Linked DNA regions of Homo sapiens: regions 1, 2, 3, 4, 6 and 7 are each linked to region 5. Evidence: fine-mapped expression QTL. A gene starts in region 5. Each other region holds a variant in brackets. All regions are shown on one strand. Distances are from middle to middle.

Region 1 (4,063 bases), 20 kb before region 5:
GATCCAAAGGGCTGTTCGATGGAGAAGGGAGTCTTTTCAACGAACAGTGCTAAAAAGTTAGACATTCACACACTAAAAAAGAACTGTGGTCCGTATCTCGCACTATGTACAAACATTAACTCAAAATGGATCATGGTCCCAAACGTAAGAGCTGAAACTATTCTCTGTGACTTTGGGCTACGCAAGGATTTATTAGATATGACATCAGACAATTCACAAAACAAATTGATAAACCGGGCCAAAACCTAAAACTCCTGATTTTAAAGACGCTGTTAGGTGAATGGGAAGACAAACCACAAGCTGGGAGATGATATTTAAAATCGCACAGCTGACACTTGGGTCCCGAATTTTAAAAGCTCTCAAAACTCAAGAAAACAAAGGCCCCAGTTGAAAACGGAATGACACGAACAGGAAGAGGTGCTCAACGCCACCCATCATGAGAGAATCATGAACTCAACGAGACACCACCACCGCCCGCTGGAGCAGCAGGTGCTCGTGACCTCCCACCCATTGCAGGGGGAAGGGGATGGTGTAGCCGCTCTGGAGAACAGCTTGAAAGCTTCAGACAACACAGCAATCTCTCTCCTAGGTATCTGCCCAGGTGAAATAAAAAACCACGTTCGCACAGAAACCTGCACACAAATGTTGATAACATCTCACGTGTCATTGCTTAAAACAGGGTCACAAGCGGTGCCGCACCCACACCACGGATGCCACTCAGCAGGGAAAGGCGCGGGCTCTGACGCACACAGCACAGGCAGTTGACTGTGGGCGGAAGCCGGGCGGAAGCAGACAGGCTCAGAGGCCACGTCCTGCAGGATTTAGCCACGTGGCCTCCCAGAAAAAGCAAAACCACAAGAAGAGAAACAGGAACAAGGGGCCAGGCCTCGGGGGTGGAGGAGGTGCTGAGCACTAGGAAGGGAGTTTCTGAGGCGAGGAACCCTTCTCTATTTTGACTGTGATGATGTTTCTTAAGACACACAGAGCTGCACGCCAGAGGGGTGAATTTTTACTGGGTCTGCAGGTAAGCAGCTGCACAGACAGATGTGCGGGATGGTCTCACTTTAAGTCTGCACTGAGATCTCTCTTCTACTCTAGACAGACTGGAAGGGCTGCGCAGAAAGCAGCAGGGTGGCCCCCCAGCTGTGGGCTCTGTTCCCAGAAGTCCCAGCGGAGGACCCAGGGCTCAAATGGTTGGGTCAGATGAAAGTCAGAATGGGATGTGTTAGGGAAGGCTGGACAAGAGGGGCCCGGTATCAGGAGCCCACATCTAGAGAAGGAAGACAGGTGCTTGACTCATCCCACCCTGCCCACCACACCCACCTCTCCTGGCACTGCTGCTGGCGCTGTGTGGCACCCGGACTCCAGACAGACGGAGGCTGCCACCACTGCTGATGTGGTCTGGAGCCAACAGCATGGCCCCCCGCCTTCCTCTGAGACATGCACTGACGCCTGCATTCCAGGCATTGCTGTTCTTCCCATTGTCTCCCCAGTCATACAGCCAGGGGCCAGCACAGACACCTCCCCCATCCACCCGACTGAGACTTGGGAGAAGGCTGATCTACCCAGAGGGGACAGGTCGCAGTGCATCCTGAGTGCTCTCCTGGCCGAGTGGCCTGTCCCACGGGGGAGCATCCTCCATGCCGCCCTTCAGTCCGAATGTGGGTGGTTCGAGACTGGCCCACCTTGGGGGGCTCAGAGCACAGTGGAAGAGGAACGCAGCTGTGGGAAGTGCTCGTACCTGGCAGGCGCACGGCAGTGGTCAGGGGCCCGGACAGAGCCATGCCGATCTCGGTCATGCCATACCGCTCCAGCAGGGTGTGGCCCGTGATGTTCTTCCACTTCTCCAGCACTGGGAGGGGCAGGGCAGCTGAGCCTGAGACCATCAGCCTACGCGGCACAACCAAAGGCAGGTTTAGCCCCTTGGGACGTGGCTCTCGC[G/A]TGCAAAGGTGGCAGGTTTAGCCCCTCAGGAGGCGGCCCTTGCTTGCAAAAGTGGCAGCTCCTTCACGAGTGCAGGAGCCCCAGGCCGTGGGTACAGCACCACTGTGCGACACCCGGGACCAACGCTGCAGTCTGCGCTACGGCGTGACTTTGTTTTTTGAAAACGATCTGTTGGGTGTATTTTAGAAGGAAGCAGGTCCAACAGCTAATGAGGGTAAACAATGTGCTTAGGGTCCGCGGTGTCCCCTGCAAAGTTCCTGCGCTGTTCACAACCACGCTCAAGAACAGCAGTGACCGTGCAGCTGCCGACCACGGAGCTGATCACGGGTGAACAGCCACGGCGCTGCAGGCTGCGGCCAGGCACATCCGGGGACTACAGCCGGCTCAGCTTGCAGGCTCTGCAGCAGAACGCGGACATGGGTGAATGGCCGCGGCACCCAAGGGGTGGGGCCGGGCACACCCAAGGGGCTCAGAACCACCCGCAGAACTGCAGCCATCTTGGCCCACAGGGTCAGCTCAGGCTTGGCAGGAGAACACGGGCCCTGAGAACTCCGAGTCCCCGCGCTCTCACACAGCATTTCCCGCAGCCTCACGGGCAGTAGGGAAGGCGCTTTTGTTTGCGGTCTGAGCGGAGTGGTCCCTGCTGCTGCCCCTGCTTTACGAGGAGGCACCACTGACAGGACCCCCGCTGGGAGATCCAGATGGCCGAGGTCTCATTGCCTCTGTCACCCCAGAAATCACCTGATCCTCTCCTTCACTGACCTCGTTCTTGCCCTTGGTTCCTTAGATTTGGTAAAACGTTGTGCTCACCCTGCTCAGCTTGGGGCCTGCCCAGCCCCAGGGTATCCCAGCAGTAGCAGCAGCAAAACCATGGGCTCCGGTGGCCTCACAGAAAAGGGGCAAGGGAACGGCAAAGAGAGCGAAGCGGTTCAGACATGTGCCTTGGACAACCCGGAATTCTCTCCAGGAACAAAGGTGCCGCTTCCCTGTGCACTTCCTGGGGACTGGGAGGAGCGCGCGGCAGCCACAGACACACACATCCCACTGGAAACTGGATGGCAGTGGAGCCTTCAGTTCCTGCAGTGCACCCTCCACGCCACCCCTCCCTCTCACAAAAAGAAAAAATACCCCACCCACGACTCTGCTGGAGGTGCGGGCCTGTGATGCGTGTGAAGACTCACTGAGCCACACGTGTGCGTTTCCAGTTAGTGAACCACACCTCAACAGCCACGAGGGAAAAGAAACGTTCCCACGCCTGCAGGTTCATGGGAGAGTGCAGAGCAAACACGCCCCTGGGTGGCCCAAAAGACCAGCTTGTCCTGGGAGGGAGGGGTTTATCCAGGGAGCTGGGAGGGGAGGAGCGGGGCTGAGAGGAAAAGCAGCAGAACGTGCCCCAGGCAGGAGGCCTCACAGGGCTGCCCACGAAGGCAGAGAGACTGCATAGGAGAGGCAGGCGCCGTGGGACATGTGGGCAGATGAAGCAGGAGCAAGCGGGTCAGCTCACTGTCCTCACCCTTGTCCTTCAGACGCCATGACAGAGAGAGAGAGAGACGGACAGGAGAGAGAGCAGACAGACAGACGGAGACAAAGACAGATGGAGAGATAGAGACAGATGGAGAGACAGGAGAGATAGAGAAAGAGAAGACGGAGAGACAGATGAAGAGCGATGGAGAGAGACAGAGAGAAGACAGAGATGGAGAGTCTGACAAGAGAGACAGAGAAGACAGATAGATGGAGAGATGGAGAGAGAGAGACAAAGAGAGACAGAGAGAGATAGAGAGACAGAGTGTGACAGAGAGAGCGATACAGAATCCAGGCAGCTATCGACGTGGAAGAGATTACAGATATACATACAGACGGGTAGAGAGAGAGAGAGACAGTTAGAGAGGTAGAGACGGAGACGGGTAGAGAGAGAGGGAACATTGAAAGGAAATGGAAAGCACTGCTTCCCAGAACTTAGTAGGAGTGATTTATTAGAAATAAGTCGTATCTGTTGATCTTTAAGACTTTCTGAACGAGAAAGTGGGCTCTTTTCACTTACCTAATTTTTTCTTCACAAACTGCACGCAAGAAATCCTGGGCGTGCGGCTGGGTAAAATGCCTGTCGTAGTACTCCATCAGC
Region 2 (4,063 bases), 110 kb before region 5:
CATCTCAAAAATAAATAAATAAATAAATAAATAAATAAATAAATAAATAAATAAATAAATAATAAGTAACCTCTTTATTTTATTTTTTGAGACCAAGTCTCGCACTGTTGCCCAGTTTGGAGTGTACTGGCGTGATCTTGGCTCACTGCAGCCTCCGCCTCCCAGGTTCAAGAGATTTGCTTGCCTGGGTGTTCGGTGGCTCACGCCTGTAATCCCAGCACTTCAGGAGGCCGAGGTGGGCAGATCACAAGGTCAGGAGTTCAAGACCAGCCTGGCCAAGATGGTAAAACCCCATCTCTACTAAAAATACGAAAATTAGCTGGGCGTGGTGGAGCACGCCTGTAATCCCAGCTACTTGGGAGGCTGAGGCAAGAGAATCACTTGAACCCAGGAGGCAGAGGTTACAGTGAGCCGAGATCACGCCACTGCACTCCAGCCTGGGTGACAGAGCGAGACTCCATCTCAAGACAAAACAAAAAAAAACAAAAACAGAAATATCTCAAATCAACTTAAACAACCAGAAAGGAACAACCTAAACCCAAAGCTAGTAGAAATAAGAAAATAATAAAAGATTAGAACAAAAATAACAGAAATGAAAAATAGAGGATGAAACCAAAAGTTGATTTTTTGCAAAGATCAACAAAATTGACAAACTTTTTGCTAAATGGACTAAGAAAAAAGAGAACACTCAAGTTACCAATAGTAGAAATCCAAGTGGGGACATTACCACTGATTCTACAGAAATAAAAAGACCGCAAGAGAGTGTTATGAAAAAAGTCGTACACAAATTGTATAACCCAGATGAAATGAACACATTCCCAGACACGCTAAACATACCAAGACTAAATCAGGAAGAAGTTAGAAATCTGAGTGGACCTGTAAGTAGTATGGAAGTAGAATCACTAGTCAAAATTCTGATAAAGAAAAGCCCTGGTGGGCACCGTGCCCACACCTGTGATCCCAGCACTGGGGGAGGCCGAGACGGGCGGATCATGCGAGGTCAGGAGTTCAAAGCCAGCCTGGCCAACATGGTGAAACCCCATTTCTACTAAAAATACAAGAAAATTAGTTAGGCATGGTGGCACACGTCTATAGTCCCAGCTACTCGGGAAGCTGAGGCAGGAGAACTGCTTGAACCTGGGAGGCAGAGGTTGAAGTGAGCTGAGATCATGCCACTGCACTCCAGCCTGGGCGACAGAGTGAAGCTGCGTCTCAAAAAAAAAAAGAAAAGCTCTAGACCTGATGCCTTCACTAGTGACTTCTACCGCATGTTTAAAGATGATTTAATGTTAAAAATTCTCAAACACTTCCAAAACACTTAAGAGGACGAAATACTTCTTAAGTCTTTCCATGAAGCTTGCATTACTCTGACACCAAAGCCTGTCAGAGATATAAGAAAACTAGAGACTAATATCCCTTACGAACATTAACATAAAAACCAACAAAATAGGCCGGACGTGGTGGCTCATGCCTGTAATCCTAGCACTTTGGGAGGCCGAGGTGGGCTGATCATGAGGTCAGGAGATTGAGACCATCCTGGCTAACACGGTGAAACCC[C/T]ATCTCTACTAAAAATACAAAAGATTAGCTGAGCATGGTGGTAGGCACTTGTAGTCCCAGCTACTCGGGAGGCTGAAGCAGGAGAATCGTTTGAACCTGGCAGGCTGAGATTGCAGTGAGCCAAGATCGCGCCATGGCACTCCAGCCTGGGCGACAGAGCGAGACTCTGTCTCGAAAAGAAAAAAAAAAAAAAAAAAAAGTCATATATGAAAAACCCAAAGCAACCGTCTTACAGAATGGTGAAAGAATAAACTTTTCCTTTAGGATAAGAAACGAGGCAAGGTTGCTGGCTTTCACCACTTGGACTCAGCATAGTACTGGAAGTTCTGACCAGAGCAATTCGGGAAGAAAATACAATAAAAGCCACCCAAATTGGAAAGCAAGAAGTAAAATCATCTGTTCGCAGAGGATATGATCTTATATACGGGAAATCCTTGAAGATTACACACACAGACAGAATGTGTTCGAACTAATAAATGAATTCAGCAAAGTAGCAGGATACAATGTCAAAATGCAAAACCAGTGCATTTCTATATACTATCAATTAACAATCTAAAAAAGCATTTACGGAAATAATTCTACTCACAATAGCATCTTGGCCAAGTGTGATGGCTCACGCCTGTAATCCCAACACTTTGGAAGGCCAAGGCAGGCGGGTCACTTGAGGTCAGGAGTTCAAAACCAGCCTGGCCAACATGTTGAAACCCCATCTCTACTACGAATACAAAAAAATTAGCCAGGTATGGTGGCAGGCGCCTGTAATCTCAGCTAGTTGGGAGGTTGAGGCAGGAGAATTGCTTGAACCCGGGAGGCAGAGGTTGCAGTGAGCCAAGATGGTGCCACTGTACTCCAGCCTGGGTGACGGAGCAAGACTCTATCTGAAAAAATAAAAGTAAAAGAATAAAATACTGCCGAGGTGGATGGATCATGAGGTCAGGAGATCAAGACCATCCTGGCTAACACAGGGAAACTCCGTCTCTACTAAAAATACAAAAAATTAGCCGGGTTTGGTGGCAGGTGCCTGTAGTCCCAGCTACTCGGGAGGCTGAGGCAGGAGAATCACTTGAACCTGGAAGGCGGAGGTTGCTGTGAGCCGAGATGGCGGCCACTGCACTCCAGCCTGGGTGACAGAGCGAGACTCCATCTCAAAGAAAAATAATAAAATAATAAAATAATAAAATACTTAATAACTAACTTAACCAAGGAGGTAAAAGAATTGTGCAATAAAAATCTACAAAAAATTAAAGAAAGCATAAACAAATGAAAACACATCCCATGTTCATGGATTAGAAGAATTAATATTGTTAAAAATGTCAACACTGCCCATATAAATCTGCAGATTCAGTGCAATCAATTTTGATTAATTCAAAACAGTATTAATTCTTCTATCAAAACATTTTGATAGGGAATTCGTATCAAAGTCCCACTGACATTGTTGTTACAGAAAAATTCATTTAAAAACTCACATAGGCCGCGCGCGGTGGCTCACGCCTGTAATCCCAGCACTGTGGGGGCCAGGCGCGGTGGCTCCCGCCTGTAATCCCAGCACTGTGGGAGGCCGAGGCGGGCGGATCACGAGGTCAGGAGATCAAGACCATCCTGGCTAACACGGTCAAACCCCGTCTCTACTAAAACTACAAGAAAATTAGCTGGGCGTAGTGGCGGGCTCCTATAGTCCCAGCTACTCGGGAGGCTGAGGCAGGAGAATGGCGTGAACCCAGGAGGCGGAGCTTGCAGTGAGCCGAGATCGCGCCATTGCATTCCAGTCTGGGCAACTGAGCGAGGCTCCGTCTCAAAAAAAAAAAAAAAAAAAAAAAAATTCATATGGAACCTTGTGGAACCCCAAATAGTCAAAATAATTTTTAAAAAGAACAAAGCTGGGCTGGGCGCGGTGGCTCACTCCTGTAATCCCAGCACTTTGGGAGGCCAAGCTGGGCGGATCACAAGGTCAGGAGATCGAGACCATCCTGGCTAACACGGTGAAACCCCGTCTCTACTGAAAATACAAAAAAATTAGCTGGGCGTGGTGGTGGGCACCTGTAGTCCCAGCTACGTGGGACAAAGCTGGAGGACTCACAGTTCCCGATTTCAAAACTTACTTCAGGCCGGGCACAGTGGTTCATGCCTGTAATCCTAGCACTTTGGGAGGCTGAGGCGGGTGGATTGTCTGAGCTCAGGAGTTTGAGACCAGCTTGGGCAACACAGTGAAACCTCGTCTCTACCAACATACAAAAAATTAACTGTGCTTGGTGGCACGTGCCTGTAGTCCCAGATACTCGGCAGGCTGAGGCAGGAGAATCGTTTGAACCCGGGAGGCAGAGGTTGCAGTGAGCCAGGATCACACTGCTGTACTCCAGCCTGGGTGACAGAGCGAGAATCTGTCTCCAAGAGAAAAAGAAAAAAGAAAAGAAAAAACTCACCTAAAATCTTCAGTAATTGGGTTGGGTGCAGTGGCTCACGCCTGTAATCCCAGCACTTTGGGAGGCCGAGGCGGGTGGATCACCTG
Region 3 (4,063 bases), 79 kb before region 5:
CCAGGACAAAGCCACATCAACGCAGCCAGCCCACAGCCCTGCACCTGGGGTAGGGGACGCAAGCACCCTGGGAGGTGGATTTTGTGGACACTCGTCCACTCCTCTCTGTCCCCCACCCAAGCCAGGCAAGACCCATGGACATTAGTGACCTGCTTCCCCACAGGGGGTCCCCAATGACACCCCCAAGCTCATCCTCGACTGGACCCTTAGCCAAGAGCCTGGAGGGAACCACCTCGAAGCCCTTGAGACGTCTGGGGCCACCGCCCTGCAGCCAAGCTCCTGGGACTTAACGCCTCTCTTGAGGTCTGCTCCTAGCCTGACACTCAACCCCAAGGGGCTGCTGTGTAAGAAAGCTCTGCACACACTGGGCGCTTGCTGCAGTCTACAAACACCACTGCGAGGTGGGAATGGGGTTTACGAACACCACTGCGAGACGGGAACGAGGAGCGGTTCTGGGGCCGACCTTGCACTCCTGCTCCCCCGGTTTTCCAAGGAAGGGTGCTACGAGATTCTAGGAACACGCTTGGTGGCGTGTGGGTGGGTTTGCCTGGGAAGAGAGTGCGAAGGCCCCTCAAGCTTCTCAGGCTTCAACCCCTCCCCCAGGCTGGAATCTGGGGCCACCCCGTTCCTGGATGGCCAGGCATGCCAGGAATGGCCCCAGCTGTTGGCCTGGCCCAGAGCGGCTGGAGCATCTTCCCTGGGCCCCACCCTCTCTAGCTGCTGCGGGCTTCAGAGAAGGGATGTGGAAGAAGAGGCATGGAGGCAGCTGTCCCCTCCAAAGCACGGTGTCTGGGGCTGTCCTTCCACTGTGGGAAGAACAGTGGCCTGGGAGCCACTTCCCTTCTTGGCCTTGGTCACAGTCACCCGAGCTAAGAGCCCCTGCCTGGCCCCCAGGGTGCTGCTGACTGTCTCCCAGAGACCAAGGGGCTCCCAAAACCCAGATGCAGAAGTGGGGACCTTCCCAGCAGGCTGGGGTTCTCTGTGAGTCAAGTGTGCTGCCCCAGACCTCAGCCGCCTCCCAGCTGGGGTGGGGTCCCAGGTGTAGAACCAGCAACTAGGGATGGTGTAGGTGCAGCAGGGCTGAGAGGGGCCAGTTCTGAAGACACCCTCCGGGTGGGGCTGAGTGAGCTCAGCAATCAGAGGTGGCCCGAGCAGGGGAGCAACCCCTCACTTGTAGAAGGCCCTGATGGGCCCACGCTGCCTGCCTGGGGGCTCACCAGGAGGCGGCCCAGGACCCCAAGGCTGCCCAGGAGAGCTCACAGTCCTGAAAGCTGAGCTGCTGGGGGAGGGGCAGGCAGGGTCCTGACACTGACATATTTTGCCTCACAGTGGAGTGAATTTGAGCCTTGGCGATAGTCCCCTTGCCATCTGGCCCCCACCTCCACCACCTCCCCCAGCCTCCAGCTGTCGGGGGAGGGGGTTATTGTCCCCCAGCCCTGGGCGAGAAAAGAAGGGACAGTGAGAGGGAAGGCTTCTGAGGAGGGAGAGGTCCTGCCTGCCTCCCCACCTGCCACAGAGCCCCCTGGGGCCTTTTGAAAGGCAGACACTCCCAAATCCAAAGGAAGAGGTCTGGAGGAATGTTTTCACAGGCGCCAGCCTCCCCACCACCATGCCCTGGGTTGGGGTGCCAGGGAAGAAACCCTGTCCCCAGAGCAGGTGGGGAAGGGCCCTGGAGGCATGGAGCCCCCCAGCCTGCGCTCCCCGGCAGAGGGCTGAGGGGTGGAGGGCCGGGGGGTGAGCACGCATGCTGAGCCACTGTCTCCCCCCACCACTGTCTCCAGATGGGGGAGTCGGGGGTGGCAGGAGCCGTGGTGCCCTCAGGGGCAGCTGCTGGAGGGTCTGGCTGGCCAGGCGCCTGGTCAGCTGCCAGGGGCTGAAATTGGAGCCAGCTGGAGCTGGGAGGCCTGTGGGAATGAGGGGACTCAGGAAGCCCCTTCAGTGGGGGCTGGGAAAGGAGTGGCTTCCCTTACTCACTGTGTCCAGCACTCCCTGACCACCCCAGGACCACAAGAGCAATGAATACTGTGAGCACCGCTAAGCCCTTTATGTGCATTCTCTCTCGAATTGGCCAGAGAGAGGCTGCCCTCTTGTACCCAGTGAC[G/A]TCCCAACCACAGCCGGCCATGCCCCAGCCCAGCCCAGTCCCTGGGGGCTGAAGCCACTGAGGCCACATCCTCCATGTCTAGGTCCCCCTAGGGTGTGAGGAGACGTGGCTCCAGCTAGGCAGTACCCATGTCGGGTGTGGGGGGCTGAGGCCTGGGCTTCCTTCCACTCTGGCTTGCTCCCACGTTGGAGAGACCACGGTGCCAGCAGTCCAGACAAGATTTTTAGGGGCAGAGTCCAGCAGCCTCTGGGGGCTGGGCCCCCAGGCCTGATCACCCCAGGCAGCTGCGGCAGGGTCCCAGGTGAAGCCCAGGAACAGAGCCCCCAGGGCTGCCACACGCCACTCTGCAAGGCCGTGTGTTGCGACCTGGCTCGGGCTGGGCCCTCCCAATCGAGAAGTAGCCGTGAGGGTGAGTTCCTGGGGGCAGGGCCTGCAGCCACCCCTGCTGGCCAGGAACTTGGGGTGGGGGGTTTGGACAAAACCCAAGACTAGCCAGGGGTCCTGTGCCCACCGCAGGGAGTCCCTATAGAAACCTGGCCCCCAGCCCCCCAGAGAGGGGCACTCCTGCCGCTCCCCCCTCTCTCTGCTCCACTCAAGACTGGCAACCCCCAGACCCCGGCAGCGGTTCCTCCAAAGAGAGGGCACGGCTACCTGGGTGGCCCCTGCCTGGGGTCCCTGACCCCAGCAGCACTCTGCAGTCCTGGGGGTGATTCCACCAGATGGAGTGTTTGGTTACACTCACTCCCCACAACCCCTGGGGTGCTGCCCCCAGCCCAGGGACCCACCCGGAGCCACTCCGCTCACAGGCCCCCAAAGGCGACCAGGGCCAGTGGTTCTGGGGGAGACCTGTGCGGCTGCAGTTGAAGACACTGTCCCGCAGCGTCGAGGGAGGCAGCGGGGACCCCCGCAGGTGCCGATGCCTTACCTGGGCCAACAGCCCGAGGACGAGGAGGAACGCGGCGTCCATCGGGGCCGAGGCGGGAGCCGGGCCGGAGTGCACCCGCGACCCGAAGAAGCGCGTCCAGGCTGAGTGACAGCGCAAGTGCGCGGGGCGGGCCAGGGCCAGAGACAGAGACAGCACGTGTGAGGGGGGCGGGGAGGGGGCGGGGCAAGGGCTGAGTGACAGCACGAAGGAGGCCTCTGACGGGCCGAGGGCCGGCCTGGGCAGGGCTAAGGCTGAGTGACAGCGTGTTGGCAGGCGGGTGGGGCGGAGCCTCTGGCGAGCTAGGGCGGGGCGCAGGCTGAGTGATAGCCCGTGTGCGAGTGGGGCAGGCGGGGCGGGGCCGGGGCCGAGGGCTGAGTGACAGCGCAGGTGCGCCGGCGGGGCGGTGACCGCACGAGGCTGGTGGGGCGGAGCCAGAGGAGGATGGGGCGGGCGGGGCGGGGCCGAGGGCTGAGTGACACCTTGTGAGAGTGCGGGGTGGGGCCGGGGTGGGGCCGGGGCGGGGCCGAGGGCTGAGTGATAGCTTTTGCGGGGTTCCGGCGGGCAGGGCCAGGGCTAGGTCGGAGATACCCCGGCTTGCTGCGTTGGGAGCAGAGCCAGAGGCCAGGCTGTGGGGAAGGCAGGGTGGGTGCGTCCGGGTCAGGGACCAGCTGGGATTCCTGGCTTCTTCATTTCCTGCTCCTTGGGCCCGGCTCGCCCCTGCTCCAGGGAATCTGCATTGTAGTCCCTGCCGGGGGACACCTCTTGAGCACTTCCTTGGGCCCCTCGCCTCTCTGGCTGCGTCTCCTGCGCCTCCCCGCATCCCACTGAACGCTAGGCCCGCCTTCCACGCACCTCCTCGCGACCTCATTTTGCCCAGCTCTTATTCAGTATGGAACTGCTCTGGTTCACACGCCTCTGATACCAGCGTGGCTCGTAGGACACCCCCAATTCCCCCAGTCCACGCACCTCCTCCAGCATCCCCTTGTTCCCCGAGGCCCCCTGCCTGGAGCACCTTCCTTCCTACAGAACTCCTTCTC
Region 4 (4,063 bases), 150 kb before region 5:
GGTACTGCTGTCAGCGAGCGTCAGCGCAGGTGCAGGCGGTGCTGGCTGCGCAGGCGCACTAGAAAGGATGCCGACACGTGCAGTGCGCGCGCGGAAGACACCGGCGAGTTCCGCCCTGGGTGCAGATTTCCGCATTAGGAGACGGCGCAGGCTGCGGCCGGCACCTCCCGGCCCCGCGCATGCGTCCAGACTCTGCTCATCTCCACTTTCTCACGGCACCTGCGAGGTCTCCGTGGGGCTGGCGCCAGTGAAGGGGTGGGCGGGAAATAATCAGAGGGGGTGGCCCAGGTCCTATCTCAGCGCAGTCTCCATACCAGGGAATATTATTCACTCCTGAAAAGGAACACGGGCCTGATCCCCGCTCCACCGCGGACGAACCTTTAAGACGCGATTCTAAGCGAAAGGCGCCGGAACACAGAAGCCACAGCACGTAGGGCTCCATGGAACGGAGGTCAGAACAGGCTGCTCCGCGGAGCAGGGCGGGGGCTGCAGGGCCCGGGAGGGGCGCGGAGAGCGGCCGCCGACGGGCCGGGCTCTGCGCGGGTAGAAGCTGTTCCGGAGCTCGAGAAGGTGCTGGTCCCGCAACACTGTGGGGGGGCCCCGCTGAGCTGAGCCTTGCGACCCGGTTTATGTGACGTGAGTTCCACCTCAATCTAAGTGTGAGGAAGCGAACAGCGTTCTTAAACTCAGAAACGTGCCCATTCGAATTGTTAACGCGAGCGCAGAGCCCACTGACAAAGCAAAATAAGACAAACCGGGAGTCAGAAAACTCAGCGACCCACAGGATCCACCGTGATGTTTCTCACAAATGTTACCGCGAAAACAGTCGGACTTGAAAATAAACGCGACCTACCTGGTTCTCGGAAGGGGAGAAGGATCCGAGCGAAAGGCGTCAGTTCTCCCTCGCTCGCCCCGTAGACGCCGCGCAGGCCCCGAGCTCCCGAGCGGCGGTTTCAGAACCCGCGGGTCACCCGGGAGCTCCTCCCGCAGTACCAGCCGAAAGCTCCCAGTGCCGAGGAGGGCGGGCAGCTGCCCTCCCCGACCTCGCCCCGCCCGCGCGGACGCCCCCGGCCCCACGCGGGGACCACCCCGGGACTCCCGCCGGACCCCGCGCGCCCGCGGCCAACCTGCGTGCACCTGCGCCCCGCGCCACGCCCCCGGCGCCCCACGTTTAGCCCTCACTGGGTCCCGCTTCTTAGTGGCTCTAAGCCCCGCCCCCTCGCTGGTCACCGCAAGCTCCGCCCCTCGAGGCCCCGCCCCTGCAAGGCCCGCCCCTTCACGACTCAGGCCCCGCCCACCACGGCCAGCCCGGGTCTAGGCCCCGCCCCGACACGACTCAGGCCCCGCCCCCGGCCAGCTTCGCTCCTCGCGCGCCCCGCCCAGCAATCCTCGCTGAACCCGGCGCGGTTTCCCCAGCGCTGCTCCACGCCGCAGTCCAGCGCCTGGAGTCCGCGCGCCCCGAGCCCCTGCCCGCTCATGCGCAGCTGGGTCACCCAGGTGCACCCACTTCCTTGCTGTCCCGCCGCCCTCCCTGCCCCCACCCCGCCTAGGCCCTGGGTGTCCCTTCTCCATCCTCCCTGGCGCCTCTGCC[T/C]CAGGCCACCTGGCCGTCCTCCTGGGCTCCCCGCTCGGGGGCGGCCCCTGGTCCGACGGTGCCGCAGACGCGCGCGCACAGGCCAGTCCCGCGGAGAGGCTGCTCTCAGGGGCTAGGCGGGGGGCTGAGTCAGAGGCTGGGGCCTGCCAGGAGCGGGGCGGCCTGGGGCGCAGCAGCATTGGAGCTGAAGGCGAGGGCGGCCCGCGCCGGTTGGGGAGCAGGGCCTAGAATTTACTTCACGACTACCAGCGTGGAAACTGCAGAGGGGCTGCCACATCGCTGCCAGGGCCTGCCCTGGGGCCTTGGATCCCGCCGGCTTCTCTCTCCACCCGCCTCTGTCCCACGTCTCCACCTGCCGTCCTGTTTGGTGCTTGGATCCACTAATGCCCAGTCAGCTTTCACGAAACGTCGGATGTATTTATTTTTTTTAATATCTGGGGTACACGTGCAGGATGTGCAGGCTTGTTGCATAGGTAAACGTGTGCCATGGTGGTTTGCTGCACCTATCAACCCGTCACGTAGGTATGAAGCCGGACATGCATTAGCTATTTTTCTTAATGCCCTCCTGCCCCCGCCCTCCCCCAACAGGCCCGAGTGTGCTTTGTTCCCCTCCCTGTGTCCATGTGCTCATGTTGTTCAGCTCCCACTTATAAGTGAGAACATGCCGTGTTTACTTTCCTGTTCCTGCGTTAGTTTGCTGAGGATAATGGCTTGCAGCTCCACCCATGTGCCTGCAAAGGACATGATCTCGCTTCTTTTTTATGGCTGCATAGTATTCCATGGTGTATATGTACATGTAACACATTTTCTTTATCCAGTCTATCATGATGGACCCTGGGGTCAATTCCATGTCTTTGCTATTGTGAATAGTGCTGCAATGATCAAATCACAAAAAGCAATTGCAACAAAAGCAAAAAATGACCAATAGGATCTCATTAAACTAAAGATCTAATTAAACTTTTGCACAGCAAAAGAAACTATCATCAGAGCTAACCAGAGACCTACAGAATGGGAGAAAATTTGTGCAGTCTATACATCTGAAAAAGGTCTAATATCCAGAATCTACAAGGAACTTACAAATTTACAAAAAAAAATTTTTTAAGTGGGCAAAGGACGTGAACAGACACTCCTCAAAAGAAGACATACATGCAGCCAATAAACCTATGAAAAAAAGTTCAACATCACTGATCATTAGAGAAATGCAAATCAAATCCACAGTGAGATACCATCTCACGCCAGTCAGAATGGCAATTTTTCAAATGCCAAGAAACAGGCCAGGCATGGTGGCTCATGCCTGTAATCCTAGCACTTTGGGAAGCCAAGGCGGGTGGATCACCTGAGGTCAGGAGTTTGAGACCAGCCTGGCCAACATGGCGAAACCCCATCTCTACTAAAAATACAAAAGTTAGCCGGGCGTGGTGGCAGGTGCCTGAAATTCCAGCTACTCGGGACCCCACTGAAGCAGTAGAATTGCTTGAACCTGGGAGGCTGAGGCTGCAGTGATCCAAGATGGCATCATGCACTCCAGCCTGGGCGACAGAGCCAAGACTCCGTCTCAAAAAAAAAAAAAAAAAAGTCAAGAAACAACAGATGGGCTGGGCGCAGTGGCTCACGCCTGTAATCCCAGCACTTTGGGAGGCAGAAGAGGGCAGATCACTTGAGGTCAGGGGCTCAAGACCAACCTGGCCAACATGGTGAAACCCCGTCTCTATCAAAAACACAAAAAAATTAGCCGGGCATGGTGGCGCATGCCAGTAATCCCAGCTCCTTGGGAGGCTGAGGCGGGAGAATCGCTTGAACCCGGGAAGCAGAGGTTGCAGTGAGCCGAGATCGCATCACTGCACTCCAGCCTGGCGACAGAGTGAGACTGTCTCAAAACAAAAGAAAAAAAAAAAAGAAGCAAAGTAACAACATAGGCTGGCAAGGTTGTGGAGAAAAAGGAACACTTTTACACTGTTGGTGGGAGTGTAAATTAGTTCAACCATAGTGGCAGACAGTGTGGCGATTACTTAAAGATTTAGAATCAGAAGTGCCATCTGACCCAGCAATCCCATTACTGGGTATATACCCAAAGGAATGTAAATCATCCTATTATAAAGATACATACACACATATGTTCAAAACGTTAGATTTTAAAGTAAAAACTCAGGGATAGCACGGCCCCCAGCAGTAGATTAAGCTGGATAAAAAGAGCCAGGAACTGGAAAGGGCATGGGGAGGCGCAGAGCTGAGGCCAAGGGTCAAGCACCTCGCCGGGAAATGCCACTGAGCACAGTTCTCCAGCCGCTGCCCAAGTCCCTCTTGAAATGGGCAGGACAGGGAGGGTGCGGCCGCAGGTGCTGGGGTTCATTTCTTAGGCCTGCGTCATGGCTATGGCCCTTAGCTGGGTGGTGTGTGGGCTGTGTCTATGACACCACCGAGGACGTGGGTATCCCTGGGGTCCCTTAGAATAGGAGGTGGATCCTGTGGCAC
Region 5 (4,063 bases):
GACTTGAACGGCTGCTGCCTTTGTCCTCATTTCCTCACTGGCCTAGCCCTTCACTTCCCACCGCTAAGATGGCACAGTAACAAGACCTGCCTCACAGGCTTCACGTGAGAATGTACGAATGGCCCGGCACAGGCCAGGCAGAAGACAAACGGCCGCGCCGTGCTCAGCAGGGTGCTCCCCATGGAGCCTCGCAACAAAAATTACTAGATGAGAATGACACTCGCATTCAAATGAAGGGCTGCTTTCAACATGAATAAAACGACACCTGACCTGTTCACCACCACACCTGACACCCCCGCCCCCCCAGACCTTGTGTTTGAAGTGGATGCCGGCACTTCCTCCTGTCGGCTGCCCCGATGAGAGCGTGGGGCAGAGGAGGGCTGTGCTCGGCCTGCGGGGCAGGATGCGTTTCAGCATCACACCTGTGGTTTGGAGGGTTATTTTCAAAATTACATTTTTAAGTAACAGACATTCACATTGCATTCATGAGCAGTACATTCAAATAAAAAAAACCAAAAAGGAAAAATACACTTGAAACCCATATCCATTTTAGGAAGAAAAATACTATTTTAAAAATGCCATCTGGAAAGGTGACACTTACAACTATCCCAAGCCCACAGTTTAATCCGCCATTTCTGTCTGCCTTGAGGAGATGGTTCAGAGCCAAAGGAGCAAGAGCAAGGGAAGCCTCATCTTATGTCCTCCAACACCTGCGGAGAGGACACCAGCCTGAGCCAGGCTTCACGCTACAAAGCTCGCAGGGTCCCCAGGGTCCACCGGTAGTAACACCCGTGCTCCTGGGTCCACCATGTGAACCCCCTCCTCAACAAGGTCTCAGCCTTGGGCCCTAACACGAATGTCTGTCCTCCCAGGATGGGAAAGCAACAACTATGCCCCAGACACAATTCGTGTTCCTATCTCTAAACGTGTTCCCTTTCTAGCAAATTCCTAATCATTCTTCCAAGCCCAGTTCAAATATCACCTCTTCTTTTTCAGTTTTATTATTTATTGAGACAGTGTCTTGCTCTGCCACCTAGGCTGGAGTGCAATGGTGCTGTCATGGCTCACTGCAGCCTCCGATTCCTGGGCTCAAGAAATCCTCGTGCCTCAGCCTAACCAGTAGCTGGAAGTGCAGGTGTACGCCACCACACCCAGCTAATTTTTACATTTTTTTGTAGAGATAGGGGTCTCACCATGTTGCCCAGGCTGGCTTTGAACTCCTGGCCACAAGTGATCCTCCTGCCTCTGCTGCCCAAAGCGCTGGGATTACAGGCATGAGCCACTGCACCTGGCCTGCCTGGTGGAATTTAGACTCAGGACAGCAACATCAACTCCTGACTGCACCGGGCCTCACCCCTTTAAACCTTCCCTCTCTCCAGGGAATGGGCTGCCTGCAGTACCTTCCAAATACTTCACGGCCGGCCGCACGTCTCCATTGCTTGCTCATAGATCTACATGCCCTCAGGGGCTAGGCCGGCTGTGAACCTGTGCCCCACGCGCCCAGCAAGGTGCACGCAGCAAACAACTAAAACGGGGAGTACTTCAAGGGTGACTTCTGAAGCCCAATGAGAAATGGAAGTGAATTTATTCCAAACACAACCAAAGACGATTCGTTCTGAGGATGCCTGAACACGGACCCCGCCGGCTCGACGGTATCACCGGGCCCGGCGTCCGCACAGCTTCTCTCCCCGCACCCCGCGCGGGGGCCCCGCTCCCCACCGGACACGAGAGGCTCGGCGTCCCGGGAAGGCCGACGCCCGGCCCCAGGCGGCTCGCGGGGAAGCGACCGCGCCACGGGCCACGGCTCAAGCCCAGCTGCGACCCAGGGGCGGGCGCCGGAGCCCGCGCCCCCGAGAGCTCTGCGCCCGGCCGACCCCGCCGCGGTCCCGTGGGCCCCGCCGCCCGCACCTACGAGACGGCCGCGGCCACGGGGCAGGATCTGCCTCGCCACAACTCTTCCTCGTCCTCCGCCGCGCGCGCGCCGGGGTCGGGCCGGGTTCCGGCCGGGTCCCGCGGGGTCGTGAGTCGGGCCGGACCAGTTCCGGCGCCCAACAGCTTCCCCGGCGCGGCGCGTCCGTCGCCCAAGCGCGTCCCCCCGGCGCGGCGCCGTGGCGGCGGGTTCCGGGCGCGCGTGTTCCCCTGTCCCGCCCGTCCCGTCGTGGCGGGGTCGGGGCCGCGGGCGTCTCGTGAGCCGTGGCCGAGGCAAGGCGCCGTGGTCTCCGCTAGCCCAGGGCTGCCCAGATCAGAACGGCGCGCGGGACCACTCCCAACGCGGATTGCTGGGCCTCGCCCCGTCCTCCCAAAAGGGGCTCTCTGGGCTTTGCGGCTGGGGGTCTGCACGCTGAGCTCCTGGGTGATTTTATTATTATTATTATTGTTGTTACTTTTTCTTATTATTATTATTATTTTGAGATGGAGTCTCGCTCTGTCGCCCAGACTAGAGTGCAGTGGTGTGATCTCGGCTCACCGCAACCTCCGCCTCCCGGGTTCAAGTGATTCTCCTGCCTCAACCTCCCAATTAGCTGGGACTACAGGCGCCCGCCATCATGCCTGTCTAATTTTTGTATTTCTTGGGTGATTTTAAACGGACCGCATTTGAGAATCTCTCCTCGAAGGGACTTGGGAACCAGGATACGAATATGAAGCGAGACTGTTGGATGGACAGTGGCGGAAAACATTTAAAGCCAAACACAAAGTCCAGTTGGCTGAAATTTGAGGGTTTTTCCCCTAAAATGAATACTAATAACACAAAGACATGTACTGGCAAACAGTAGTACAAATTATCTGCAGAACCGTCCTGGTGTGATGGCTCACGCCTGTAATCCCAGCACTTTGGGAGGCCGAGGTAGGCAGATCACGAGGTCAGGAGTTCAAGACCAGCCTGACCAACATGGTGAAACCCTGTCTCTCCTAAAAATACAAAAATTAGCCGGGAGTGGTGGCAGGTGCCTGTAATCCCAGTTACTCGGGAGGCTGAGGCAGGAGAATCTCTTGAGCCTGGGAGGTGGCGACTGCAGTGAGCTGAGATTGCGCCACTGCACTCCAGCCTGGGCAGCAGAGTGAGACTGTCTCAAAAAAAAAAAAAAATTATCTGCAGAACCTTGCACAGTTTTTTTGTAAGTGTATTATTTTCCATGCCCATCTTCCTCTCTTGTGATGATTGCTGGGGCAGCAGTTGTGTCCTTGGAAAGCTCAGGAAAGGGCACTTCAGGAGCCCGAGGATGGTTTTCCTGGGAGGAAGGAGCTGGATCTGGGGGAAGTTTGTAACACAGAGCGTGGGAGAACAAACCCAAACTTCTAGTGCCTCTGGTTGCCACCCTGCTAGGTATCATGCAGAAAAAGCAAGTCCAACCCTCTGCCACTGGGACAGGCTTGATCTGGTGTCAGAATTCTGTCTGCTTCCAGGACTCAGCAGGCTGAATGGTGTTTCCGACGAGGGCAGTAGGAAGAGTAAGGAGGGCGTCTAACATCAGGATTCAGCCCCAGGACGTGTGTGCGCAAATTTCTATCCCTGGGAAGTTGAAGAGCTCAGGCTGCGTCACCCACCTAGAGACAGGACTTGGGACAGGGTGACAGCTCCCGTGGTCCTTGGCCATGGCTCTGTGAGGGTGGCAGTGGGGGGAGGGTGCAGTCTCCGAGAAATGGCCCAGTCATCCTATGAGCAGGGGTCCCATCTGTGCCTCGGCTCTGGTCAGCATCATAGTGGCAGGTGGGAAGCAGGAGCAGTCAGGGATTAGCAGACATTGGAGGACAGCCTCTAGCCAGAGAGACGTGGGCTGAAACAACCAGCAGAACAACTGCAGGCAGCCAGGCTGTGCAGAGTGAAGAGACCCCCAAAACCACCCCCTGTTAATACCCTCAGGGAGACAAGGGAAGCGACAGCCCCCATGAGTCCAGAGCGAGATGCCCCGAGAAAGAGCGTTCCAGTAACATAAAGGGGGGCTGGAGGGGTCAGAATACAACAGCCTGAGTAAAAACCCTAAGGGAAGGGCTAAAGGACGTCTCCTAGAAATAGAACAGAAAGACCGAGAGATGAAAAACAGGAGAGGAAAGATAAAAAAAT
Region 6 (4,058 bases), 230 kb before region 5:
ACGTCTGTCCTGCCAGCCCCGTAGAAGGATTGTCTTTTGAGCCCCATTGCAGGGGAGGTGGAGCCCCTCTGGGCTGCAGGGGCTCTCGCAGTGTGGAGAGGCACAGGGCAAGGACGGCTGTTCCCAGCATCAGCTGGCCCTGGATCCCAGAGCTGGCCGCAGACACTGTCCACTCCGCTGGGCTGAGTTGTGTCTTATTTTGGCACAGATGCGGGGCTGCCAGGTAATGGGCAAGTTCCCTGAGCCCACAGCTTTGGCGCCGTGGCTTCTGCTTCAGGGAGTGTGCCAGTGGCTCGTGTGGGGGACTCCCACCACCCTGGACTCTCGGTGACCCTGACAGTCCACGAAGCTGGGACGGTTGCCATCCGCCAGGAGGTGAAGTAACAAGGAATGCGTGGCCTGGGGGCGGTCAGGGCCAGGTGCTGGCCGGCCCCTCGGCTCTGCGTTTACCTTCCCGCGGCTGTGCCTTGCCGCTCAGCACAGGGCGTGAGTCAGCCCCAGTGGCCTGAGGCGTGTTTCAGTTTCCTGCTGATTCAAGGGTCGTGAGTTTAAAATAGACTTTGCCTGATAACTTGGAAATGAGGGAGATTTAGGCTGCACTTAAAATGAGTCTAGGCAGGGACAGCCAAGTCACCTTCCAGGGAAGAGTCTCCCCCGGGAGTGAGACCCGGTGCCTTCTGTTGTGTGGTCGGCTGTGCAGCATCGTGATGAGAAGGCACAGGGGCTGCGGAACTGTCTAAAGAGGGGACTCCCAGCTTCAAGGACTGTTTTATGTGACAGCCCTGCCAGGGAGGCCTGGGGACATCATCACAGCCCCCACCCTCAGACAACACCCATGAGTCAGCAGAGCCTGTTGGCCTGACTCCTGAGTGCCGTGCAGCCCCTGGTAGAAGTCACTGACACGGCTGAGTAACGGTTCCTCGGCCCTCGGCTGGCTCTGCCATTTCACGGCAAGGGGTGAGGCTGACCAGCCCTGAGCCTGGTGGAGGGAACACAGGGCAGTGTGGGGGCCAAAGGTGCCAGAGGCATCACCAGGGCAGCTTCTGGGAGGACTGGGATGGCAAGTCTTGGAACAGAACAAAAGCAACTGGAGCCTCTGTCCTCATCTGGTCTCTCATTGAAAAAGACTCTAGAGTGGGCCGCGTGCTGCACGCCTGGTGCCTGCAGGCGGGTCCTGGGAGGTGTAGCCTGGGCTAGATGGCAGCTACATCCAAACCAGCTTCATCCACATCCAGCAGATGCTTCAGCAGGACATCTCAGCTGTCACCATCTCCATGACTGTGATGAGGGTGGTGGTTCATGGAGAGGCGGGGGCTGGGGTTGCAGGGCCTCGAGCACATCGCTGCCATCGGTAACATGTTGTAGCCAAGGCCAGGCGGACACGAGGGTCCTGGAAGGGCCACGGCCTGGATGGTCTTAGCTGTCATCGTGCAGGTGGCTGGAGAAACGTCTCCAGAAAACACAGCGTACACCTGGGACAACACTCCCGAGTCCCCGGAGTGTTCGCTGTGATGCAGGCCGTGAAAAGTATTTTGCCTGGTGGGTGCGACCCACTTCCTCCACCTCCTGAGTGGACTCCCAGATCCCTGGTCCATTGGGGAAGGTGCCTGGGCAAAGCACCAAGCTAGGGACATGAAGAGAATCAGGTGTCTCAGGAGTGAAGTGATAAGCCCCGCACTGTCGGGGCCCAGACACCGTCCGGAGGCCGTGGGGTCTGCGCCCTGACCACGCCAGAGCTGTTGAGTGTGTCCGTGGGCCACAGACTCACATCTGGGATCAGGACGGTGGA[C/T]TCTACATGGTGAAGGCCCCGTTTTTCCGTCCTGAGAGCAGACAGTCTGGATTTTTTAAAATGTTAATTCCAGATAATCCTTAAACTTGTAAACATTACCACTGAGTTTCTAGACAGCCATGAGCTTGAACAGCCTTCCGAGTCAGGTGCTGAGATGCCCTTTCTCCAGGCTGAGACATTCCGGTTTTGTGGTGGAAAATTGGAAGAGAATGTAAAATTCATTGGTTCAGGTAGAGAGAGAAAATATGTCTGGCCTCAGGCATCAGGGATGGTGGATGGAAACACCTGCTCACCTGCACCGCGGGTGGAGGTGTCAGGCAGTGAATACGTTGACCCGACCTGTCCCTCTCTCCAGAATAACTTCACCTGTGTTCTTGTACCAGTTAAATACCAAGACAGCAGTTGGTGGGATTTTATCATTTATTTTAGAAAGACAAAGCAGGTCATGAGATGGTGTTGGAGGAGAAGCATCTTGTGGTCTCAGCCAAGCCTGCGTCCAGGGGCAGGTGGCATGCAACGTATCCTTTAGCTGACGGGGTGGAGGTGGGAGAGGCTCACAGTGGAGCTGCCACTCACAGATGGGTCTGCACATCGTGTTTCAAAAGCCATACTTCGTGCATGAGCGAGATGGGTAAATGCAGGGGAGCGAGTTGCAGAAGCTGCTTCTCCCGGCATGGTCGCGCACAGAGGTGCTGCTGTGGCGGAAAGGGCAGAGACGTGCACACAGTTCCATTTGTATGAAATGTTTTCTAACTGACGGTGCGGCGAGGACATGATGGGGGGACAGTGGCTTTGGGTGTGGGTGTGTAGGTGTGTCCCCCATTCCTCTCGTGAGTGCACCCGGGAGGCCTGGCTGTGATGGTGAACAAACCTAGAAGGCCCACAGGCAGGGAGGAGGCCCATGCTCCGAGAGTGTCCATGCCAGGCGTGGCGTGGGGAAGTTGGCATCGCCACAGAAGAGACCAGGACGAGGCTGGGAAGGAAGAAGTGCGCTCGCACCGTGTGTCGCAGAGGGGCAGCCTCACACCACGGGGGTGGGAGTCGGAAGCAGGGGCTCGGGGAAGGCCTCCCCCAACTGCCTGTTGGGTTTCCTGCAGAAAGAGAGGGACGGGGCAGAGCAAATAGTTCGGGAGTGGCTGCTTCGGAAAGTTCTTGCAGGCTTTGTGCTGTAGGGACACTTTCTAGTTTCCTTTACCTGGCTCTGCGCTGGTTTCAGGCAGGGCTTGGCCTGGGCGTGAACTTGGGTAAGAAGGTGATTGGGTTGCATGGGAGCCCTTGGCTATCTAGGAATTTGCCAGCCCTGAGAGAGGGGCAGTCTCTCCCTGGCCAGAAACTTGTTAAGATGGCAAAATTTCCTAAAATAAAACATGATTAATAAATAAAAATAATATACAATTAATACAGTATGTGTCCTCGGATTTCCTGGGAAACCCAGGAGCTGGAGCCTGAGGCCCGAGGGGGCGTCTGCTTCCATGGGCGTGGAGTTGGGACCTCGGAGCTGCTGGGACTCGCTCAGAGACACCCCTTGCCTACCAAGTTAGGGAACTGGGTGTGCAAAAAGCACAGGCCTGGTGGGGACAGGAGCTCCTTCCCAGGTGGTGAGTGGGGCGTGAGGCTGGGGCTGTGGACATGACCTGCCAGACCTGAGGGCTGGGGTACTGCGCTGCGTGTTGTGACCTTGCCTGTAATGCGGGGAAGGGACTGCCTTGTGGTGCCTGACCGTTTTGGGTGTAGCCTGTACCAGGTGGGACCCAGGATCCAGGTGCTGCTGACTGCCACCCAGAACACAGCCACACCCTAGGCCATGCGTCCCTTTCTGCCACTACAAAGTGCTTGACCCTTCTCTGTTCTCCTTCCTGCTCAAAGCTGCCATTCCTGTTGCTGGTGACCCCTTTATGGGAGGCGTATCCTGAGAAGTCCCTTCCTGGGCCTGGCCCGGGCCCCAGCCCTGATCAGAGCAGCTGCCTGCCTTGACTAGTTACTGAGTCTGTTGAGTGCGGTGTGAGAGTGGATGAGTTTTGAGCTGCCTCTGAATTCAGTGAATTGTGTGTCTTCTCTTTTGAAGCAGACGGTTGATGATGAAGCGCCGGCCGTGTAAATGAAGATCGGGTGAGGAGCAGGACGATGCCCAAGGGTGGGTGCCCTAAAGCACCACAGCAGGAAGAGCTTCCCCTCAGCAGCGACATGGTGGAGAAGCAGACTGGGAAAAAGGTAATGCTGCCCCCTCCCAGCCCTGCATGCTCACCGCACCCAGATGGGGATGAGGTGG
Region 7 (4,063 bases), 32 kb before region 5:
TTCTTTTTCTTTCAAAAAAGAAACGTTGGTAGGGCACAGTGGCTCACACCTGTAACCCTAGCACTTTGGGAGGCGAGGAGGGAGAATCACTTGAGGCCAGGAGTTCAAGATCAGCCTGGGCAATATAGTGAGACCCCCAACTCTACAAAAATAAAAATAAAAAATTAGCTGGGCATGTTGGCACATGCCTGTGGTCCCAGCTACTTGGGAGGCTGACGCAGGATCACTTGAGCCCAGGAGTTCAAGGCTCCAGTGAGCTATGATTGCACCACTGCACTCCAGCCTGCGTGACAGAACGAGACCTTATCCCCCACACACAAAATAATAATAATAGAAAAGAAAACCTCTAGGCCCAGATGATTTCATTGGTGAATTCCACCAATCATTGAAAGAAGAAATAATACCAATTCTACACAATCTCTTCCAGAAAAAAAAAGAGGAGAGAACACTTCCCAACTCATTTAATGAGGCCAGCATCACCCTCAAACACAACCCAAAGAAAGTACAAAAATGGGAAACTACAGACCAAAATTTCTTATGAATACAGATGCAAAAATACTCAGCAATATGCTAGCAAATCAAATCCAGTACTATATATAAAAAAATGACCCACCAGGACCAAGTGGGGTTTGTCCTGGGAATGAAAGCTTGGTTCAATGTAATCTACCATATTAACAGCCTAATAAAGAAAAGTCCATCAATACCGAAAAGCTTTTTGAAAATATTCAACATACATTTAGTGATAAAAAGTCTAAGCACATTATAGATAGAATGGAATCTGCAAAAAGCCAGTAACTAACACACTTGCTGAAAGACTGAATCCTTTCCCTAAGATCAGAAATAAGAAGGTCCACTCGGACTGCTTCTGTTCAGTATCGTATTGGAAGTCCTAGTCAGGGCTTTGGTCATACAGGTTGGAAAGGAAGAAATAAAACTGTTTGTATTTGCAGAAAACATGATTGTATTTGTAGAAATTCCCAAGAAGTCTATTAAAATCTCCTAAAACTAGTAAGTTAATTTAGCAAGGTAACAACTAAAGTATTTGAGGCCAACACACAAAAATCAATTCTATTTCTACCTACTAGCAATGAACAGTTGAAAACTAACAACAGCAACAAAAACGTGACTGTGTGCAGAGGCTCATGCCTGTAATCTCAGCATCTTGGGAGGCCGAGGCGGGCAGATCACTTGAGGTCAGGAGTTTGAGACCAGCCTGGCCAACATGGTGAAACCCTGCCTCTATTAAAAATACAACAATCAGCCAGGTGTGGTGGCACACATCTGTAATCCCAGCTACTGGGGAGGCTGAGGCATGAGAATCACTTAGACCCAGGAAGTAGAGGTTGCAGTGAGCTGAGATCGTACCACTACACTCCAGCCTGGGCGAAAGGACAAGATTCTGTCTCAAAAAAACAAACAACTCTCCCCCCATACCCACCTGCCATACTTACAATAGTTTAAAAAGGAGAGGAAAAGGAGGAGAAGAAATAGGAGGAATAAAGAAAAGAAGAAACATTTACTTATAAATTTAACACAAGTACAGCATCTATATGCTGAATACAACACAGAAGAAACCAAAGTATATCTAAATGGAGAGACACACCATGTTCACTGATCTAAGTAAATGGAGAGACAGACCGTGTTCACAGATCTATGTAAATGGAGAAACATACCGTGTTCACGGATCTAAGTAAATGGAGAGATATACCGTGTTTGCGGATCTAAGTAAATGGAGAGACATACCGTGTTCACGGATCTACGTAAATGGAGAGACACACCAGGTTCACGGATCTAAGTAAACGGAGAGACACACTGTGTTCACGGATCTAAGTAAACGGAGAGACACACCGTGTTCACGGATCTAAGTAAATGGAGAGACATACCATGTTCATGGATTGGAAGACTCAGCATAGTAATTGTTAATTCTCCCCCAAGTGATCTCCCCGATCAGAATGGCTAAATTCCAATCAACATCTCTCTCTCTCTCTCTCTCT[T/CTCTCTCTT]TTTTTTTTTGAGGCAGTCTCACTCTGTTGCCCAGGCTGGAGTGCAGTGGTGCAGTCTTGGCTCACTTCAACCTCCACCTCCCAGGCTCAAACAATTCTTGTGACTCAGCCTCCCGAGTAGCTGGGATTACAGGCGTGTGCCACCACACCTGGCTAACTGTATTTTCAGTAGAGACAGGGTTTTACCATGTTGGCCAGGCTGGTCTTGAGCTCCTGGTCTCAAGTTGATTAGCCTGCCTTGGCCTCCCAAAATGCTGGGAATACAGGCATGAGCCACTACACCTGGCTTTCCATTCAAGACCTCAAAAGAACTTTTTGTAGATATAGACAAGCTAATTCTTTTTTTTTTTTTTTTGAGACAGAGTTTTGCTCTTGTTGCCCAGGCTGGAGTGCAGTGGCGTGATCTCGGCTCAGTGCAAACTCCGCCTTCTGGTTTCAAGTGATTCTCTTGCCTCAGCCTCCCAAGTAGCTGGGATTACAGGCACCCACTACCATGCCTGGCTAATTTTTGTATTTTTAGTAGAGACGGGTTTCATCATCTTGGTCAGGCTGGTCTTGAACTCCTGACCTCAGGTGATCTGCCCACCTTGGCCTCCCAAAGTGTTGGGATTACAGGTGTGAGCCACCAGGCCCGGCTAGACAAGCTAATTCTAAAATTAATATGTGCACCAAAACAACTCTGAGAAAGAATAAAGCTGGTGAAATCACACTACAATTGTTAAGACCTACTATAAAACCACAACAGTCAAGATAATGTGGTGTCGGTAGAGGAATGGAAACATAGATCAAGGGAACAGAACAGATAACCTGTATGTAGACCCTCTCAAATATGTCCAATTAATCTTTGGCAAAGTGGCAATGGCAATGCAATGCAGAAAGGGTAGTCTTTTCAACAAATATCACACACACATGCAGTGTGCGCACAGGTGTCACATACACATGCAGTGTTGCACACAGGTAACACACACGTATATGCAGTGCGCACATGGGTATCACACACACATGCAGTGTGTGCATATGTGACACACGCAGTGCGTGCACAGTTATCACATACACATGGTATGTGCACAGGTATCACACACATACACGCAGTGCATGCATGGGTATCACACACACAGTGTGCGCATGGGTATCTCACACACATACATACAGTGAGCAGATGGGTAACACACACACATACATGCAGCATGTGCACAGGTAACACACACTCAGTGTGTGCACGGGTATCACACATGCGCAGAGTACGCACGGGTATCACACACATACGCACAGTGCACGCACGGGTAACACACACATGAGCAGTGCACACACAGGTATCACACACATGCAGTGTGCACAGGGGTATCACACACATACATGTAGTGTGCAAACGGGTCTCACACACACATATATGCAGTGTGCACACGCGCCCCCTCGTCCTATGACATCGTCAGGGAGTCCGGCCTGGAGCTCAGCCATATTGACTTCTGGGGTTTCCATCAGGTCTTTTTTTCTGTATTTATGTGTGTAACAGCTGTGCACACACAATGTGTATGTGTGTGTGATACTTGTGTGGACACTGCATGTGTGTGATACCCATGCGCACACTAGGCATGTGTGTGATACCCATGCGCACACTAGGCATGTGTGTGATACCCGTTCATGCACTGCATGTGTGTGATACCAGTGTGCACACTGCGTGCGTGTGATACCTGTGTGTGCACTGCATGTGATACCCATGCGTACTACGTGTGCTATCCGTGTGCACACTGCGTGTATCTGTGATACCCGTGCGCGCACTGCATGTGTGTGTGGTACCTGTGATATGTCACAGGATGTGAGGGAGTGGTAGGAGCCAGCCCCTCAGCGAGGTGATGGAGGAGGCTGAGCCCTGGGCCTGGCAGGCCAGCTGCCACCTGGGGAGGGTCCAGATACTCTGGCCCCGGGGATGATCCTGGGAAGGTGTCCTCCCATCCCCACAGGGCACATTCCTTTCTGCAGGTACTTTCTGTTTCCTGACAAATATGACACCAAGCCTCTTAATTCAGCTCTGAAGGCCTGGCTGATCATCTGCCCAGGAACAGTCATGA

Which allele goes with the higher level. Alleles are on the strand shown, and positions count from the first base shown. SD is a standard deviation of normalised expression in the study named. Not every link is listed here.
In carriers of allele C in region 6, the expression in regulatory T cells of the gene that starts at base 2,053 in region 5 tends to be higher than with T alone (large effect, 1.5 SD a copy in Schmiedel 2018).

The links.
Region 1: its variant is fine-mapped to the expression of ACSF3 in prefrontal cortex (GTEx, PIP above 0.99).
Region 2: its variant is fine-mapped to the expression of ACSF3 in lung (TOPMed, PIP 0.92).
Region 3: its variant is fine-mapped to the expression of ACSF3 in whole blood (TOPMed, PIP above 0.99).
Region 4: its variant is fine-mapped to the expression of ACSF3 in lymphoblastoid cells (TwinsUK, PIP 0.95).
Region 6: its variant is fine-mapped to the expression of ACSF3 in regulatory T cells (Schmiedel 2018, PIP 0.95).
Region 7: its variant is fine-mapped to the expression of ACSF3 in prefrontal cortex (CommonMind, PIP 0.95).

The regions. Positions count from the first base shown.
Region 1 is chr16:89,112,166-89,116,228 of GRCh38, reverse strand. It overlaps ACSF3 (acyl-CoA synthetase family member 3), which reads right to left. Exons shown (of 11, transcript NM_001243279.3): 5 at 3,983-4,063; 6 at 1,742-1,890. Among named protein-coding and RNA genes, the nearest start is that of ACSF3, 20 kb to the right of the region's middle. RefSeq lists a silencer at 1,374-1,668 and enhancers at 1,764-1,863, 1,063-2,262. The variant G/A (reference allele first, on the strand shown) is at 1,942.
Region 2 is chr16:89,204,762-89,208,824 of GRCh38, reverse strand. No RefSeq gene overlaps it. Among named protein-coding and RNA genes, the nearest start is that of SLC22A31, 6.3 kb to the right of the region's middle. The variant C/T (reference allele first, on the strand shown) is at 1,558.
Region 3 is chr16:89,170,837-89,174,899 of GRCh38, reverse strand. It overlaps CDH15 (cadherin 15), which reads right to left and starts at 3,152. Exons shown (of 14, transcript NM_004933.3): 1 at 3,027-3,152. The coding sequence starts at 3,068. RefSeq lists a silencer at 3,077-3,716. The variant G/A (reference allele first, on the strand shown) is at 2,102.
Region 4 is chr16:89,244,793-89,248,855 of GRCh38, reverse strand. It overlaps LOC124903766, which reads right to left and starts at 1,478. Exons shown (of 3, transcript XM_047435040.1): 1 at 1,394-1,478; 2 at 854-1,259; 3 at 1-731. The coding sequence starts at 1,478. The coding sequence ends at 197. RefSeq lists a silencer at 951-1,700. The variant T/C (reference allele first, on the strand shown) is at 1,592.
Region 5 is chr16:89,091,842-89,095,904 of GRCh38, reverse strand. It overlaps ACSF3 (acyl-CoA synthetase family member 3), which reads right to left and starts at 2,053. Exons shown (of 11, transcript NM_001243279.3): 1 at 1,909-2,053. RefSeq lists enhancers at 1-50, 1,270-1,459 and a silencer at 1,880-2,289.
Region 6 is chr16:89,316,875-89,320,932 of GRCh38, reverse strand. It overlaps ANKRD11 (ankyrin repeat domain containing 11), which reads left to right. Exons shown (of 13, transcript NM_013275.6): 3 at 3,855-4,000. The coding sequence starts at 3,914. It overlaps LOC128462377, which reads left to right. Exons shown (of 2, transcript NM_001416403.1): 2 at 3,858-3,887. The coding sequence ends at 3,887. LOC100287036 (a long non-coding RNA gene) reads right to left here and starts at 481. Exons shown (of 4, transcript NR_168302.1): 1 at 1-481. RefSeq lists a silencer at 29-108 and enhancers at 439-952, 629-1,008, 953-1,465, 2,727-3,318, 3,319-3,910. The variant C/T (reference allele first, on the strand shown) is at 1,790.
Region 7 is chr16:89,123,630-89,127,692 of GRCh38, reverse strand. The region is part of intron 7 of ACSF3 (acyl-CoA synthetase family member 3); the gene reads right to left. Among named protein-coding and RNA genes, the nearest start is that of ACSF3, 32 kb to the right of the region's middle. The variant T/CTCTCTCTT (reference allele first, on the strand shown) is at 1,995.